Regions from separate parts of the Homo sapiens genome. Here region 2 is linked to region 1. A link means that fine-mapping ties the variant in region 1 to the expression of a gene that starts in the linked region. Tissue or cell type: whole blood. Region 1 holds a variant in brackets; the other region holds the start of a gene. All regions are shown on one strand. Distances are from middle to middle.

Region 1 (9,102 bases):
GAGCTCAGCAATCCTCTTCTCCCACTTCAGCCTCCCAAGTAACTGACTACAGGCACATGCCACCAAGCCCAGCTAATTTTATTTATTTTTTTTGTAGAGAAAAAGTCTATGTAGCCCAGGCTGGTCTCAAACTCCTGGACTCAAGTAATCCTCTGGCCTCAACCTCCCAAAGTTGTGGGATTGCAGGCGTGAGCCACTGCACCTGGGTGATTCCACTGTCTTTAACATCATCACTGTGTCAGTTCACACCCAGCGCCAGGGAACTATACGCAAATAATAAAGCTTCACCTAAAAGGTTGAATATTCAGGGACCTTAAGAAGCTTGTCCTCTTGGAATTCAAACATTTCTTCCTTGCCATCTTCTTACACTACCACTTTGGCATTATCTAGAAATCATAAAATAATTTGTTAGTGCCAGAAGAAAATCTTGTCTGGATCCCTTTGGTTTACCACAAGGAAACTGAGAAAGCAAGCATTTACTAGGCAAGGACAAACTTCAACAAATATTTACTGAGTTTCTTCTGTCAGAGAAGAAACTCTGCTATGAACACAAAGATGAAGGAGTTTTAGTTCTCACCTTCAAAACCCTCATATATAGCTAGAGGCTTGGATATAGGGATAGCTATATCATAACCTCTTATAGGCTATACCAAATATCCATATGAAGCACTATTCAAACATAGATAAGGAAGCACAGGAAAGGTAGAGAAGAACCTGAAAGGAGATGAGCCACCGCAGCCAGCCTGGCAGATTCTCAATAGGAATATATCAGGCAGTTAAGAAGAGAAAGAGAGCTGGGCACGGTGGCTCATGCCTGTAATCCCAACACTTTGGGAGGCTGAGGTGGGAAGATCGTTTGAGTCCAGGAGGTCGAGACCAGTCTAGGCAACATGGCAAAAAATTGTCTCTACCAAAAACAAAACAAACAAACAAAAAATAAATAAATAAAAATAATAATACAAAAAATTAGCCAGGTGTAGTGGCATGCAACTGTAGTCCCAGCTACTCAGGAGGCTGAGGTGGGAGGATCGCTTGAGCCCAGGAGTTCAAGGCTGTAGTGAGCCGTGATCGTGCCACTGCACTCCAGCCTGAGCAACAGAGCAAAAACCCTGTCTCAAGAAAAAAGAGAGACAGAAAGAAAAGAAAAGGTATCAAAAGAAGAGGGACAAGTATGAACAAAAGCATGAAAACACAAATATGTGTTACACAGTAAAGAATTACAAACAGTGCAACTGGGGGTGATAAGGGATGAGGAACAACTGCAGATGAGATTGAAAAAAATTAGCTATGTTAAGATGGGGAAGCCATGAATGCCATAGTAAGGAGTCTGGGATAGACTTTTGACAGAAAGTCTCTTTTTAGCAGGAGGATGACTATTAAATTTGTGTTTGGTAACAGAATGATACACTGGAAGCCCAGAGACAAGGAGGCAAAATAAAAAGGTCCTAAACTAGGATTAGTTAGTAAAAAGGATAGCAACAACATGAAACAAATTTCAGAGGTAACTTGATCAGGGATAACTGGATGTGGAAAATGAAGGAAAAAAAAAAGGATGACTCAAATCCCAAGAATGGTTCTCAGATAAGCCAATAAAAGGGGGAAAAGCCTCAAAGAGAGAAGGTATTAAATTTGAGTTTCAAGTAAGTTTCAGATAAATATCTGTCCAAATGTCACAAATTCCAAGATAAATGTCCACATTAGAGGCTTTCACTTATAAATACTTGCTAAGAATCAGGTAATACTTCTCGGTTTCTAGTTTACACTTTATCCCTAAAAACACTGTACAATTGTGATTAGGAGAGAGGACATATTACCAGGTAATTAGAGCCAGTTAATATCTGAGTTATAAGTATGACAGTTTCAAAGGCAATGGCAAAGCAAGCCTGGGGAGAAGTGTCTAGGATGATAGCTATTCTTAGCATTGTCTAAGCAAATGTCTCAGTAACAAGAAAATGTTACCTAATACTTCATTACCTGCTCTGTTTTTTGCCAAAATGTATTGTCAGGGCACTTCTGACACTTTTAAATGGAACAGAGCAAAAAAGGAAAGAACAATACTACACAACAATATTTACATACAAAAAAAAATAATAATAATAATAGGAGAAAATTCCTGAATATTTGGCATTTTTCATTTAAATCTTCAAACTTTTGGCCTTAAAACCAAAATTGTCAGGCTGGGCACAGTGGTTCATGCCTGTATCTCAGCACTTTGGGAGGCTGAGGAGGGCGGATCACCTGAAGACAGGAGTTCGAGACCAGCCTGGCCAACATGGTGAAACCCTGTCTCTACCAAAAAATACAAAAATTAGCCAGGTGTGGTGATGCATGCCTGTAATCTCAGCTAATTGGGAGGCTGAGGCACGATAATCACTTGAACCCAGGAGGTAGAGGTTGCAGTGAGCCAAGATCATGCCACTGCACTCCAGCCTGGGCCACAGAGACTCTGTCTCAAAAAAAAAAAAAAAAAAAAAGTCATTTTTAAAAATGAAAAAAAAAAAAAGTAGGGCTCTGGAAAGCTGATTTGCCAGAGCAGATGTTAGAGAGCATTAAGAATTTTTTAAGCCACCTTCTGAGATAGCATACTATCCATCACTTAAACACTAACTGGGCATCAACTATACCCCAAGCTGTATCAAATGAGACATTACAGCAGTCCCCTTCATCCTCAGGGAACATGTCCCAAGACCCTCAGTGGAAGCTTGAAAGTGTAGGTAATACCGAACTTATACATGCTATGTTTTTTCAATCTGGTAACAGTGAAGTGACCAGCCGAGGCCAGTAGCAGGTAGGTAGTCTATATACTGCTATATACTGGATAAAGGGATGATTCACGTCCTGGGTGGGATGGTGAGAGATTTCATCACACTACTCAGAATGGTGTACAATTTAAAACTTACAAATTGTTTTTTTCTGAAATTTTCTATTTAATATTTTCAGACTGCTGCACACCTCAGGTAACTGAAACCTTGGAAACTGAAACTGTAGATAAGGGGAAACCATTGTATGGTCAAGCCAGATGACCTCCTATCACTAGGTGAATGACAATTTAGGGAAAAAAAAATTAAAAATTTAGAAAGAAACTTAAATCATAAGTGATTATAGAAATCTACTGACTTTATAAAAGTGGCTTGACAGCTTTTTAAAAAAATATACATGAGGCTTTTTAAAACACTGAAAATAATGCAAGGACCACCACTACTATCTCCATGGGCCCCAAAGGATCCAGTCACTCCAGGTTAGAAACAGCCTGATTACTATCTCATCCAATAATGTCAACCTAAATAAATTCTCATTCTTCTATTTATCCCATCATTTAATGAAAATAATTAAGCTATTTATACAAAGTTACATAGTAATATAGTGTCAAGATCAAACGATGAGTTGTGTATATACAGTCAATAATTTAGCAAAGTTATGGCCTATGATACTATGCCTATTATAAGAAAGACAGCAATTACCTAGAAGGCAGGAATGACTGAGGAAAGGGGGGTTGATTAACCTCAGGAAGAAAAATTTTTCCTTCAGGATTCCAAAATGATAGTTATATAAAAAACAAAACCATTCAGGGTGCTACAGGTACTAAGAACAATGAGTGAAAGCTAATACGGAAGTAGATTTTCTTTCCATTAAAAAAAAAAATCAATAGGCAAACACTGTATTGAGATGCATCACAAAAATAGCTCACTGTTATTTATTTGTAGTTAAGCAGAGACGGCAGTGTTTTAGAAAGATTTCTTACAAAAGCAGGAGCTCTCGATCCTGGATGTGCATTAAAATAATCCAGGAAAGATTCTTGTTTAACGGCAATGCCTGGTCCAAACCCCCCAGAGACCCACTTACTTGGTATGGGGTAGGGCCTGCCTGCCTGTATTTTTTAAAATCCCCAGGTAAGAAAATCTGAGTAAGATCACATCAATGTCATTACCCTCATGGTGATACTGTGCAAGATGTTTTGCAAGATACTGTTTTTATAAGATGTTACCACTGTAGAAAAAATCGGTAGAGTACGTGGGATTCAATGCTATACAACTTCAGTCACGCCAAGAATGGCTATAATCAAAAAATTAAAAAATAATAGATGTTGTCATGGATGTGGTGAGAAGGGAACACTTCTACGCTGCTGGTGGGAATGTAAACTAGTACAACCACTATAGAAAACAGTGTGGAGATTCCTTAAAGAACTAAAAGTAGAACTACTATTTGATTCAGCAATCACACTACTGGGTATCCACCCAGAGGAAAAGTCATTATACGAAAAAGATACTTGCACACGCCATTTGTAGCAGTACAATTCGCAACTGCAAAAATGGGGAACCAGCCCAAATGCCCATCAATCAACAAGTGGATAAAGAAACTGTGGTGTGTGTGTGTGTGTGTATATATATGTATATATATACACATATATATGTATGCACACATATATATATACATATATACACACACATACATATACGTATATACGTATACACAC[G/A]CATACATATACGTATATATATGTATACACACACATATATATATACACATATATATATATATATGATGGAATACTACTCAGCCATAAAAGGGAATGAGTTAATGGCATTTGCATCAACCTGGATGGGATTGGAGACTTATTATTCTAAGAGAAGTAAATCAAGAACAGAAAACCAAACATTATATGTTCTCACTCATAAGTGGGAGCTAAGCTATCAGCATGCAAAAGCCTAAGATTGATATAATGAACTCTGGGGACTCGGGGGAAAAAGGTGAGAAGGGGGTGAGAGATAAAACACTACAAACTGGGTTCAGTGTATATTGCTCAGATGATGGGTGCACCAAAATCTCACAAATCACCACTAAAGAATTTACTTATGTAACCAAATACCACCTCTTCCCCAATAACCTAGGGAAATAAAATTTTTTGGAAAAAAGAATATGTGGGATTTTTGCATTATTTCTTGTAACTGCATGTGAATCTACAATTTTCTTTTCTTTTCTTCTTTTTTTTTTTTTTTTTTGATGGAGTTTCACTCTTGTTGCCCAGGCTGGAGTGCAATGGCATAATCTTGGCTCACTGCAACCTCTGTCTCCTGGGTTCAAGTGATTCTCCTGCCTCAGCCTCCCGAGTAGCTGGGATTACAGGCGCCCACCACCATGCCCGGCTAATTTTTGTATTTTTTTAGTAGAGACGGGGTTTCGCCATTTGGCCAGGCTGGTCTCGAACTCCTGACTTCAGGTGATCCGCCTGCCTCGGCCTCCCAAAGTGCTGGGATTACAGGCGTGAGCCACCATGCCCGGCTGTGAATCTACAATTTTCTATTTTAAAAACAGTAATGAAAAAAATCCCCAGGTGATTCCATTACGTAGCTAGAGTTAAAAAAAAAAAAAATCAGTAAACTGGAGAATCTCAAATTCCTACCAATTCTGAGACTACAAGCTATTTTAAACTTAAGCCACTGAAAGGTTATTAGGAATGTTTATCATTTACAGGTATAATGTTTTGCAAAGCCAAAAGTAATTAATTTACGGTTAATCCAAAATAAAAAATCCAAAACACTATGTTCTCCCAATAGCATACAAAAAGATTGGATAGAAAGGCATTATACAATAGCTGTAATTTACCTCTTAACAGAGAGAGACAGAGACAAACAGCCGGCCTCTAAGATAGCCCCCAAAGACCCCTGCCTCCTGGTCTTCACATCTTTGTATAATCCCCTCCGATTGAGTATGGGCTGGATTTGGTTATTCACTTACAACAAATAGAATATTGCAAAGTGATGCGACGTTACTTCTGAAATTAAGTTATAAAAACTTTGTGGCTTCCATCGTATGGGCCTTTTCTCTAAGATCCCTCACTCTGGAGGAAACAAGCTACTGTGTTGTCAGCCACTTTATGGAGAGGCCCACATGGCAAGGAACTGATATCTCTGGGCAACAACCAGCCAGTGAAAATCTGGCCTGGTCACAGCCAAATGAGTGAGCTCGGAAGGGGAAGCTTCCCCAGTCAAGCCTTGAGGACTGCTACCCAGGCCAGACACGGTGGCTCATGCCTGTAATCCCAGCACTTTAGGAGGCTAAGGCGGGCAGATCCCTTGAATTAAGGTGTTCAAGAGCAGCCTAGGCAACATGGCAAAACAAAAAAATACTGGTCTCTACCAAAAAACCCACAAAAACAAAAAAATAAGCTGGGGTGTGGTGGTGCACATCTATAGTCCCAACTACTCAGGAGGCTGAGGTAAGAGGATCACTTGGACTCAAGAGGTGAGGGTTGCAATGAGCCGAGATTATGCCATTGCACTCCAGCCTGGGCACCACAGCAAGCCTCTGTCTTTAAAAAAAAAAAAAAAAAAGAGAGAGAGAGAACTGCTACCAAGCCGTCACCTTGGTTGCAGCCTTGTAAGAGACCATAAGCCAGAGGCCCCCAGGTAAGCTGCATCCAGAATTGTGACTCACAGAAACTATGATATAACAGATCCTTGTTTTTTTAAGCCACTAAGTTTTGGGGTAACATAAGGCAAAAGATAACCAATCTACATAGTTACCACAGGTCAACCCCAAAAGAATCTAATGTGATGACTTCTGCTTACCTTTCATCACAGTATTTAATCTCCCAGGTTCTACATTATTATCCAGCATTTATAAGCTCCATTCTACTTTAGCTGATTTCACCATTACCCAAAAACTCTCCTCATTCTCACCTCATTCAGTTCCTTAGAATGACTTCCTCTTTTTTATCCACCCAAATCCTAGCCATCTTTGACAACACCTACAGAGGTCTCTTCCATGAGTATCTATTACTATCCACTTATTTAAATTACTCACTAACCTAACAGCTTTAACTCTAAGAGATTCTCAACTCCTTAAGAATAAGTCTTCTCATATTCCTTTAAACAGGACTTTATATCTATCCAGGACTTTATATCTCTTCCAGCATACTAATAAATTAGAAAACTCAACATTCTATATTAAAAAAATCTAGGACTGGAAGGGAAATCAAGAACTCCAATCTAGAATGTCAGATGTCACTAGTTTAGTTTGTCTATTTGAAAATACTGGCCGGGTGCAGTGGCTCATGCCTGTAATCCCAGCACTTTGGGAGGCCAAGTCGGGTGGATCACCTGAGGTCAGGAGTTCGAGATCAGCCTGGCCAACATGGTGAAACCCCGTCTCTACCAAAAATACAAAATTAGCCGGGCGTAGTGGTGGGCGCCTGTAATCCCAGCTACTCGGGAGGCTGAAGGAGGAGAATCGCTTGAACCCAGCAGGCGAAGGTTGCAGTGAGCCGAGATGGCGCCACTGCACCCCAGCCTGGGCAAGAGAGAAAAGACTCTGTCTCCAAAAAAGAAAAGAAAAGAAAAGAAAATACTGAGTAAAGACCACCTTAGCTGAAGGATAGCATAGCATGAAGGATAGCATCTACGATGACAAACATCTTCCAACCCTATGATTAGCCTAGTAAACGTTGCCTAGGTTCTGGAAATTTTCCCATTATTACCTTTTTTTTGAAGTAGAGTCTCCCTCTGTCACCCAGGCTAGAGTGCAGTGACACTATCTCAGCTCACTGCAACCTCCAATTCCCAGGTTCAAGCAATTCTCCTGCCTCAAGTCTCCCAAGTAGCTGGGATTACAGGCACAGGCCACCACGCCCAGCTAGTGTTTCACCATATTGGCCAGGCTGGTCTCAAACTCCTGACCTCAAGTGATCTGCCTGGCACAGTCCCCAAAGTGCTGGGATTACAGGTGTGAGCCACCGTGACTGGTCCCCTATTATTAGTTTCTTAAACAATTTATCTTCCCTCATTAACCCACCTCTGTAGTAATCTATCACTACACGTAACACATAGAGAAACACTGCTATTAAATTTCAACTACATCAGCAGTTCTCAAACTTTAGCTTGCATCACCATCACCTAGAAGGCTTGTTAAAACAGACAGCCAGACCCCATCCCCAGAGTTTGATTCATAGGACTACTGCCATAGCAATTCAACAAGTCAGTGTAATTTAAACTTACAGCTCAAGGAGATCAGCTGGGAAAATATAAAAGTCCAAAAGAAATAAATCTAAACTATATCAAACACTTTAATAACTTCAAAACACATGTGCCTGCACACATCATGCACAGGCTTGTACACCCTCTTCCTCCTCTCCCAATTAATGAACATAACCACAATATGCACACCTGAATTCAATTTCTTGGAAAAAATGAACATCTCCAATTAACTGAGGTTTTTAAAATGATGTTAAACGAATAAAACACTTAATGTAAAAAAGGACCAACCTAGTATTTCAACTCCCTCATTTTCAGTCCCAGATTAAAAACAAAACAAGGCCGGGCAAGGTGGCTCACTGTGATCCCAGAACTTTGGGAGGCCGAGGCGGGCAGATCACCTGAGGTCGGGAGTTTGAGACCAGCCTGACCAACATGGAGAAACCCCCATCTCTACTAAAAATACAAAATTAGCCAGGCGTGGTGGCATACGCCTGTAATCCTAGCTACTCAGGAGGCTGAGGCAGGAGAATCGCTTGAACCTGGGAGGCAGAGGTTGCAGTGAGCTGAGATCGCGTCATTGCACTCCAGCCTGGGCAACAAGAGAGAAACTCCATCTCAACAACAACAACAAAAAGTGTGGCTGGGCACCGTGGCTCATGCCTATAATCCCAACACTCTGGGAGGCCAAGGTAGGTCGATCATTTGAGGTCAGGAGTTCGAGACCAGCCTGGCCAACATGGTGAAACCTCATCTCTAATAAAATACAAAAAATAGCTGGGTGTGGTGGCGCGTGCCTGTAATCCCAGTTACTTGAGAGGCTGAAGCAGGAGAATCGCTTGAACCCTGGAAGTGGAGGTTGCAGTGAGCCAAGATCAGGCCACTGCACTCCAGCCTGGGTGACACAGTGAGACATGTATAAAAAAAAAAAAAAAAAATTTGAAGGTTCTGAGATATTAACTAGACAGAGTAAAAACCAGGGCTATAACTGACTCCCCAATCAGTAAACAATATGCTAGAATAGTACACTGTTGACCGGGCACGGTGGCTCATGCCTGTAATCCCAGCACTTTGGCAGGCCGAGGTGGGCGGATCACGAGGTCAGGAGATCCAGATCATCCTGGCTAACATGGTG
Region 2 (9,102 bases), 170 kb after region 1:
AATTACATTAAATGTAAATGTAAATTACAGGCTCACACCTGTAATACCAATAATTACATTAAATGTAAATGGTCTAAATATGTCAACTAAGACAAAGATTAGTAGAGTGGACTTTAAAAAAATGACCCAATTATATGCTGTCTAAAATAAACTCACTTAAATACAGCTATATACGTAGCTTGAAAGTAAAAGGATAGAAAAAGGTATATTTTGCAAAGATTAATCAAAAGAAAACATAAATGGCTATATTAATATCAAAGTAGCTCTCCACACAAAAAGCTTACCAAGAACAGAGTGACATTGCATAATAATAAAAGTATCAATTCATCAAGGCATCACAGTTTTTAATGTTTATGCCCCAAATGACAGAGCTACAGAATATGTGAAGCAAAAACTAATGGAACTGAAAGGAGAAATAGACAAATCCACAATTACAATTGAAGTCTTCAACACCTTTCTCTCAACAATTGATAAAACAACTAGACAAAATCAGCAAGCATATAGGGCCAGGCACTGTGGCTCTCACTTGTAATCCCAGCACTTTGGGAGGCTGAGGTGGGCAGATCACTTGAGGTCAGGAGGTCAAGACCAGCCTGGCCAACATGGTGAAACCGCTTCTCTACTAAAAATACAAGGTTGGGCACAGTGGCTCACACCTTTAATCCCAGCACTTTGGGAGGCCAAGGGGAGCGGATCACTTGAGGTCAGGAGTTTGAGACCAGCCTGGCCAACATGGTGAGACCCCATCTCTACTAAAAATACAAAAAAAATAGCTGAGTGTGGTGGCAGGCGCCTGTAGTCCCAGGCTTGGGACTGAGGGTAGCAAAACAAACCTCAACAAATGCAAAAGAATTGAGGCCAGGCTCAGTGGCTCACACCTGTAATCCCAGCACTTTGGGAGGCTGAGGCAGGCGGATCACCTGAGGTCAGGAGTTGGAGACCAGACTGGACTACATGGTGAAACCCCATCTCTACTAAAAGTACAAAAATTAGCCGGGCATGGTGGCGGGTGCCTGCAATCCCAGCTACTCAGGAGGCTGAGGCAGGAGAATTGCTTGAACCCGGGAAGCAGAGGTTGCAGTGAGCCAAGATCACGCCACTGCACTCCAGCCTGGGTGACAAAAGCGAGACTCCATCTCAAAAAAAAAAAAATTGAAATTATACACAGTGTGTTCTGACCACAATGGACTCAAACTAGAAATCAATAACAGAAAAATAATAGGCAAACCTCCAAACACTTAGAAACTAAACAATACATTTATAAATAATATATGGATCAAAGAGGAAGCCTCAAGGAAATTTTTTACTGTATTTTTCTTTTTCTGCAGAGAACTTTGTTCTGATTTTTGAATTGTTTTACTACTTTTGGGGTGAAAATTTTAAAAAATACATAGGACTGGGCCAGGCATGGTGGCTCACACCTGTAATCCCAGCACTTTGGGAGGCCTAGGCAAGCAGATCACGAGCTCGGGAGATCGAGACCATCCTGGCTAACATGGTGAAACGCCATCTCTACTAAAAATACAAAAAAAATTAGCTGGGCGTAGTGGCGGGCAACCGTAGTCCCAGCTACTCGGGAGGCTGAGGCAGGAGAATGGCGTGAACCCGGGAAGCGGAGCTTGCAGTGAGCTGAGATCGGGCCAGTGCACTCCAACCTGGGCGACAGAGCAAGACTCCATCTCAAAAAAAAAAAAAAAAAAAAAACTACATAGGACTGAATGAAAATGAAATTCCAGTAACCCATTTCGTGGTCAACTTATTACAAGGAGTAACTTTCTGTTAAAGGAGAAAAATAATTTATTTTATTTATTTATTCATTTAGTAAAAATGGGGTTTTGCCATATTGGCCAGGCTGGTCTCAAACTCCTGATCTCAAGCAATCCACCCACCTCGGCCTCCTGAAGTGCTGGGATTACTGGTGTGAGCCACCGCATCCCGCCAGAAAAATGATTTTTGAAAATCATAATTTGCTGCTGCATTTTTTTTTTTTTTTTGAGATGGAATCTCACTCTGTCACCCAGGCTGGAGTGCAGTGACACGATCTTGGCTCATTGCAACCTCCACCTCGTGGGTTCAAACGATTCTCCTGCTTCAGCCTCCAGAGTAGGAGGAGCCCGCCACCATGCCTGGCTAATTTTTGTATTTTTAGTAGAGACGGGATATTGTCATGTTGGCCAGGCTGGTCTTGAACTCCTGACCTCAAGTGATCTGCCCGCCTTGGCCTCCCAAAGTGCTGGGATTACAGGTGTGAGTCACCATGCTCAGCCAGAAAAATAAATCATTTAAAAATCATGATTTGCTTCTGAATTGAATATTGTTTTAAGAACTTTTTGATGATTCCAGTTGCTACTGCTGGTCTCCAGCAGTTTCTTAGAATAGTCAATGGACACAAGTTATGTTAAAATCTCTATTAGGCCAGGTGCAGTGGCACACTCCTGTAATCCCAGCACTCTGGGGCACCGAGGTGGGTGGATCACTTGAGCTCAGGAGTGTTCTAGACAAGCCTGGGCAGAATGGTGAAACCACCATCTCTACAAAAAAAAAAAAAGAAAAAAAATTATCCAGGCATGGTAGCGTGCACCTGTCATCCCAGCTACTTGGGAGGCTTAGGTGGGAGGATCGCTTGAACCCAGGAGGTTGAGGCTGCAGTGATCTTAGATCGCACCACTGCACTACAGCCTGGGTGACAGAATGATAACCTATCAAAAAAAAAAAAAGGAAATCTCTATTAAAATAATTAGCAATTTTACTGAAAGAGGCATGAAAAATATATTATGGAATAAATATATAATTTATGAAGTATGTGTCTTTGTCCAAACATTGTATTACTACTTTGTGCAAACATCACTGATCCATCAAGAGAATACCTAGACATGTGCAGGAGTAATAAAATTCCATCAGCTCTGATATTTTGCCAACTTTCAGTCATATAGAAAGCGTAGCTGTACATATGTCTTTCATTTTCGTAATTCTGAACCTGTATTTGTGAAAATAAGAGGGGAACATATTTAACAAATTGTAATTTGATTTGTATCTTTTAAATGTTTAGATGCACAGTATGTCGATTTCCATTTCTTATTTTGCGCTGGGCCCAACAAATGTTGGGGTGGGCCTGGCCCTAACATCCTCGACCCTCAGAACCTCAGCTTCCTTTTCCGGAAAAAGAGAACACTCCTGAGTTCACAGAACTGGGATGAACTGGGCACCTGGTGCATAATGGGTTCTGAGTAAATACGGCTAAGTTCCCTCACTCTCCTAAGGAGGAATCCGTGTTCAAGGAGTGTTTAAGGGGTTTTTATTTTATTCTTCCTTTCTTTTTAAGGCTGCAAGGGAGACGAATGTGTCTGAGGCTCAGGGGTAAGAAAGTGGTTAAAGACACCGAAGACAGAGATGTGTGATGGGGCGGGGTGGGATTGGCTCCGAGGGACTGGCTCGATAGTGGGAATAGAGAAGAGGAATCCCCATCCACCCCCGCAGGAAACGCACCAGCGTTTGGAGGTGTGTGTGCCTGCGTGTGCCTGCGTTTGCCTGTGTGTGCCTGTGTGTGCGGTGGGGATTAGCCCCGACTCCGGCAGACACCATCACGCATGACGAAGCTGCTTCCCCTCACGCGGCCCAAGGCGCACACGCGCGATCCACGGCCACGCCCGCACACACTCGACACACACAGGGCATTCGAGGGTCCGGTTGCCATGGCGAGCAGGAGCGCGTGAGCCCAGCCGCCCCCCCCGCCCCCGGCGAGCCCAGTCAACTCCCACTCTGATTGGCGGCTGCTTCCTCATTATGCAAATCATTTGCGTAGACTCGGCGGCCAGCTGCCTGACGTCACCAAGCACGGGGGCTGGGGCTCGGGGCTCGGCTCTGGGAGAGCTCGGGCGGGAGCCCAGAGAGAGCCGCACGGGGACCTCAAGCCAGACCCCAGCGTTCAGCCGCCACCTCGGCCCGGGCCCGCCCCGCCCCGGCCCCGCCCCTTTCCTGCCCGCCCCACCCCCTCTACGCCCCTCCACCCGGACCCCGCCCCCTGGGCAGCCCCCCGCCCTCTCCGCCCGGGCTCCGCCCCCTCCCCCTGGCCCTCGCCACCGGTCCAGGGAGGGGACGGCGGGACAGGCGGGACCAGTGGGACCGGCGGGAGGGCTGACAGGGCGGGGACATGGCCGCGGCGCCGGGAGGGTCAGCGCAGCCCGCTGGCCCCGGCCCGCGCCTGGGTTTCAGCACCGCGGACAGCGGCGTCGGCATGAGCGGGCTAAACCCCGGTCCCGCCGTACCCATGAAGGACCACGACGCCATCAAGCTCTTCGTGGGGCAGATCCCGCGGGGCTTGGACGAGCAGGACCTCAAGCCGCTGTTCGAGGAGTTCGGCCGCATCTACGAGCTGACGGTGCTGAAGGACCGGCTCACCGGCCTCCACAAAGGTGCGCGGGGTCAGCCCAGCCCAGCCCAGCCCCAATCCGATTAGAGTGTGGCCCGACCCCAGCCCAGCCCCAGCCCTAGCCCTGCCGAGAGCCAGTCCAACACCAGTCCAATATCAGCCCCACCTCAGCCCAGCCCCCTTCCCAGATCACAGAATTTTCTCTCTGACATCCTCCCTCTGATTATCACTGTGGTCCCCTAACATGTTCTCCACTCTAACCTCCAAATTCCTGGCCTCCACCTCTCACATCCCAGCAGTCCCTGCCTTTCAATTGGACCTTTCCACCACCTCTCCCATCAGACCTAAAATTCTGGAATTTGAAAACTTATTCCACCTTCTAGATCTCGAATACCCTCAATTTCCCAAACCCTGAGCCCAAACACTCCTGAATCCTCCATCTGGTGGCACCTCACTCAGGCCTAACCACCCACATGCATATCTTGGACTTGCACCCCTCCTCTGGCCTCCTAGTCCGGCCATCCCCCTCAAGAGCCTTCTTTTGACTCTCAGACTGCCAACCTAAAACACCGCAGACCCAAACCCTCCCCTTCTTCAGAACCCAGACCTGTCTAACACAAAATCCAATTCAATTCCCAGGAGGCTCTCAGTTCCAGACACCCCCTCATGTTCAACAACAGCCCCAATCTCTCCTGCCCTTCGCCAGAATCCCAATGCACTCTACCTCTTTTGATTTCAGTTCAGAACCCTGACCTCAGCTGGGAACTCCTGCCACCCTGTGTCCCTTTCTTCTTGGATTTCTCTCAGCTAAATCCACACTTCTTTCCTTCTCTAATCCCCTCACTCCTGTGCCTCTTCTTTGCTCCTCCCCAGTCCTCTTTATGGCCTCTTTCTTTCCCTCCCCTCACAGGCTGGTCCCAGTCCAGGCCCATTCTCAGGGTGAGTCAGGCTGAAGAGACAGAAGGAGATCTTCTCCCTGCCCTTTCTAGAGAGATACACGGTCCTGTTCGGCCACACCCCTTTCTTCCTGTAGAGAGAGGGAGGAGGCTTGTTTACATGCAGAAAAGTCTGTCCAGGCAGGGCTGGAGTAAGAGAGCCAGAGTCACATGTCATACATGGGCAGGAGAAGGGGAGATGATTTGAGAAGGAACACTCTTATCTCCTCCCCCACCACCACCACCATGCTGTGCTTTCAAGTTTTTGCTGGGAAAGAGTCACCAACTATCCTCCATGATCTTCCTAAGAGAGGAGTGGTGGGCCTTGGGTAACAGCTAAAGGTACATTCCTAAGGACTGAGAGCTGGAATCAGACTGCCACCTCTTCAACTTGGAGGCCTCGTAGGGTTCCTTGGCACACTAATGTAGGCACTTCGAGAAAATGCCAATAGAAGAGCTAGGACCATCTGGCTAGGAGTACAGCTTCCACCCTTTGGGCTGGGATTGTGTTAATGGGTGTATGAAAGGACAATACCTCACCATCTAGAGTCCTTCTAATGCACTCCCACTACCTGCCTGTCTGTCCATCCCTCTGTAGTAACTCATTTTCTTATTTTTAGACATTGATTTCAGGATGTACATACAAAGCTAATCTTTGTAGGCCATCCGTACAATAAGGGAAGTGTATAGAATACCCTTAAATCTCACTCTTCTCACTATCAGTCTCTGAACTGTTCCCTCATCCTCTCTCTTTTCATTTAGCTCTAATTCTGCCTGTTATTTTCATTCATCTGTCTCTCAAACCATGCTTCTCTGTCTTTTCTTCCCTTCATTCTTCCACCCTCTATCCCGGCTAGTCCACATGGGGCTTCTTTAGGCAGCAACTGGGCCCCTGAGCCTTTCAGACAGGCAACCTGCCCGGTTTGGACGTCAGGTGATATGGGTTGGTAGCAAAACACAGAGCAGGGATGTAAGTGGAATCAGGTGTTTGGTGATTTATTTCCAAACTAAATCACAACTCTCCAAGGCAAGTGTTGCCTTCCAAGATGATTGTAGAGGGTCTCCAAGTCAACATCTTCCTCATCCTCTCCCCAGAAACAGTGACTCATTTTCCTTTTGATGTCTGGGTACCGAGGCAGGCAGCCACAGTGCTTTGAAAACAACCCCAGCTTGGGAGTTAAGACATTCCAAATCCTGCCCTGCCACTGACCCACTCTCTGGGCTTCAGTTTCCCTGTTGATGTGATAAGAGTTTTGCTCAGTTCTCTAAGTTCCCTTTAACTCAATGAATGTCCGGCAATAAACCCATCTTAATGGGGCAGCCCTGTAGAAGAGGCCAGAAAAAAATGTTCCCATTTGCCTTTCTAATCTGCTGAGGTCTAAGTGGAAATCTGCCCCAAGTTCCTAATGGCTCACCATATCCACTTTCTCCTCCTTCAGTCCTTCTCCCTCCTACACTCAGAATGCTCCTTTTGAAAACAGATCTTATCATCTCACAGATCTGCTTAAAACCCTTTAAAGTGGCTCTCTATTGCTCTTAGGAAAAAGTTCAAAATCCAACTGAGGCCCACAAGGCTACATATGACTTGATTCCTGCATATCTCACTAGCCACTCTGCCCCCATACACCAGCCTCCAGCCACACTAACCTATCCATTTCCCCAACACACCAAATTCTTGATTCAGTCTTCATATATGCTTTTCCCTCTGTCTGAAATAATCACTGTCCTTTTCATCACCTGATTGTTAAGGACTCAGTGTTCTTGTTCTCGAGGACTCAGTGCCTTCTTTGAGACATTACTCAACCCTTTGGACTTGTTTAGGGGTCCCTCATGATTTGTCTAATCCCCATGAGGGCAGGGAATGTGTGTCTTGTTGCCACTCTATCTCCAAGGTCATCAAAATGCCCCACCATAATAAGTAAGTGTTCAATAAATATTTTCTGAATGAATGAGTGCTCAGTGGCTGTTGGAAAGGAGGAGAGTGCTGCTTCAGTGCTTCCTAGCAGGCTACAGGTCCTGAGGCTGAACAAACAGAGGGCTAAACTTGACCCTTTGGCTCAACCTAGACCTCTTCGCTGACCCATATATGCTGGCCCTTTTAGAGGAGCCAGATTTGAGGCACAATAACTCTTTAAGAGGCCCTACCTCAAAGCCCTAGGAGGGTTGACAGATCAAGATCCTTGAACAGGATTAGGGGGTCCCTGGAAACTCCCACCTATGGGAAGCCCTTAAACCAATCCCATCTTCTAAGTCTCAAATCAATCCATTCCCCAGCTTCAAACTTAGGGGAGGGAGACATGGACAAGAGCTGGGGGCTCCTGGGGTTGGCTCCCAATCCTTCTTTTACTCTTTTGCCTCCTCCCATCCGAAACTGAGTTGGGAAGGAATTGAGGCTGATCCTGGGAGACTCCATGAGTCTGAATCCAAAAAGGAAGGGGAAGTCTGGGTTAAAGATGATGATAAAGCTGCTTAGGGAGGTTTAACCCCAACAGGACTTGTGACTGGAGTGGGGAGGGGAGATGTGGGATTGTATGCACATGTGACTGGGTGTGGGCACATATGTTCTCTGGGCAGGATGCCAGGAGCAAATGAAAGGGAGCCAGAGCCTGGGACACTGGTCCCCAGGCACATGAAGCCCCTCCCTCCAGAGGTGGGAGGCAGAGAGGGCTTCTCAGAAAGCAGAGTCCTTGCTTAAAGGAGAGTGGCCTTAAGTTTGTCAACTTAGTGGGGTATTTCGAAGAAGAATAGTTGGGGGTTTCAGGAAACCCCCTGAGCCAGCCTCTTCCTCCTCAGGCTGTGCCTTCCTCACCTACTGCGCCCGGGACTCTGCTCTCAAGGCCCAGAGTGCACTGCACGAGCAGAAGACCCTGCCAGGGGTAAGTCCTCCAGGTTGGGGGGTGGGAATCACCTCAGGCTGGGGACAGTGCCCTGTGTGCATGCCAAAGCAGCATGTGGGGGCTGGGTTGGGACCGAGAACTAGAAGCAGAGTCATCTTTCTAGGAGAGGGCTTCCTGTACCCTGAACAGCAACAAATTCTTTGTTACATCCAATCTTCTGGCTCAAAAAAGGGGCTCAAGATCCTTGGGCCAGGCGTTCCACCCATCTTTTAGGAGAGGCATCAGTGTTGAGGGCTAAGCTAGAATTTATTCACCTTGGTAAAATTATGGCTTTGGGTGTCTCTTGTCACTGGTGTGAGCATGTATGCAGATACATGGGGTAGAGGTTCTGCTGGACTGGTAGCCCATTTTCTCTAGTCCTAAGGTCCTTGCTGGAACTTCTCTCTAGTCCTTTTCCTGTAATGGTTATTTTTGGTGCCTTGACTCACTAAGATTGTCTTCCCTCCACACTGCAAACACTTGGCTAAAGTTAGGGGAGACCTGATTCTACAGGCAGCTTGGCTTGTAGGCACCAATGGTACCTGGTCTGGTCTTGGCTAATGGATAATCAGTCAACAAAAGGCAAGGTGGGACCTACTGACCATATGGCAGAATAAAGGGGTGATCGTTAGTAACTAGCATGGGTTTACCAAGAGCAAGTCATACTATACAGCCTTGTTTTCTCTTGTCCAAGAAGCGGTGTGTCTAGAACAGAGCACTGTTTAAATGCCATTCACAGGCCAAACTTGGGACTATGTCCAGTTCTAGGCCTCTCAAATTTAAGAGAGTCGTTTGTCTACAAGAAAGAGACGAGGATGAAGTAAAGACACAAGATATATTTGGAATAATAGTTTGGAAGAGTTGGGATGATTTAACTGGAGGAGATAGGGCTTAGAGGGACTTTAATAGGGAGGCATCATAA

The links.
Region 2: it holds the start of CELF6, and the variant in region 1 is fine-mapped to the expression of CELF6 in whole blood (TOPMed, PIP 0.93).

Annotation. Positions count from the first base shown.
Region 1 is chr15:72,480,067-72,489,168 of GRCh38, reverse strand. All of the region lies in intron 1 of ARIH1 (ariadne RBR E3 ubiquitin protein ligase 1), which reads right to left. Among named protein-coding and RNA genes, the nearest start is that of ARIH1, 10 kb to the right of the region's middle. The variant G/A (reference allele first, on the strand shown) is at 4,475.
Region 2 is chr15:72,314,923-72,324,024 of GRCh38, reverse strand. CELF6 (CUGBP Elav-like family member 6) reads left to right here and starts at 3,868. Exons shown (of 13, transcript NM_052840.5): 1 at 3,868-4,412; 2 at 8,098-8,180. The coding sequence starts at 4,151. RefSeq lists silencers at 3,732-3,781, 3,842-4,181.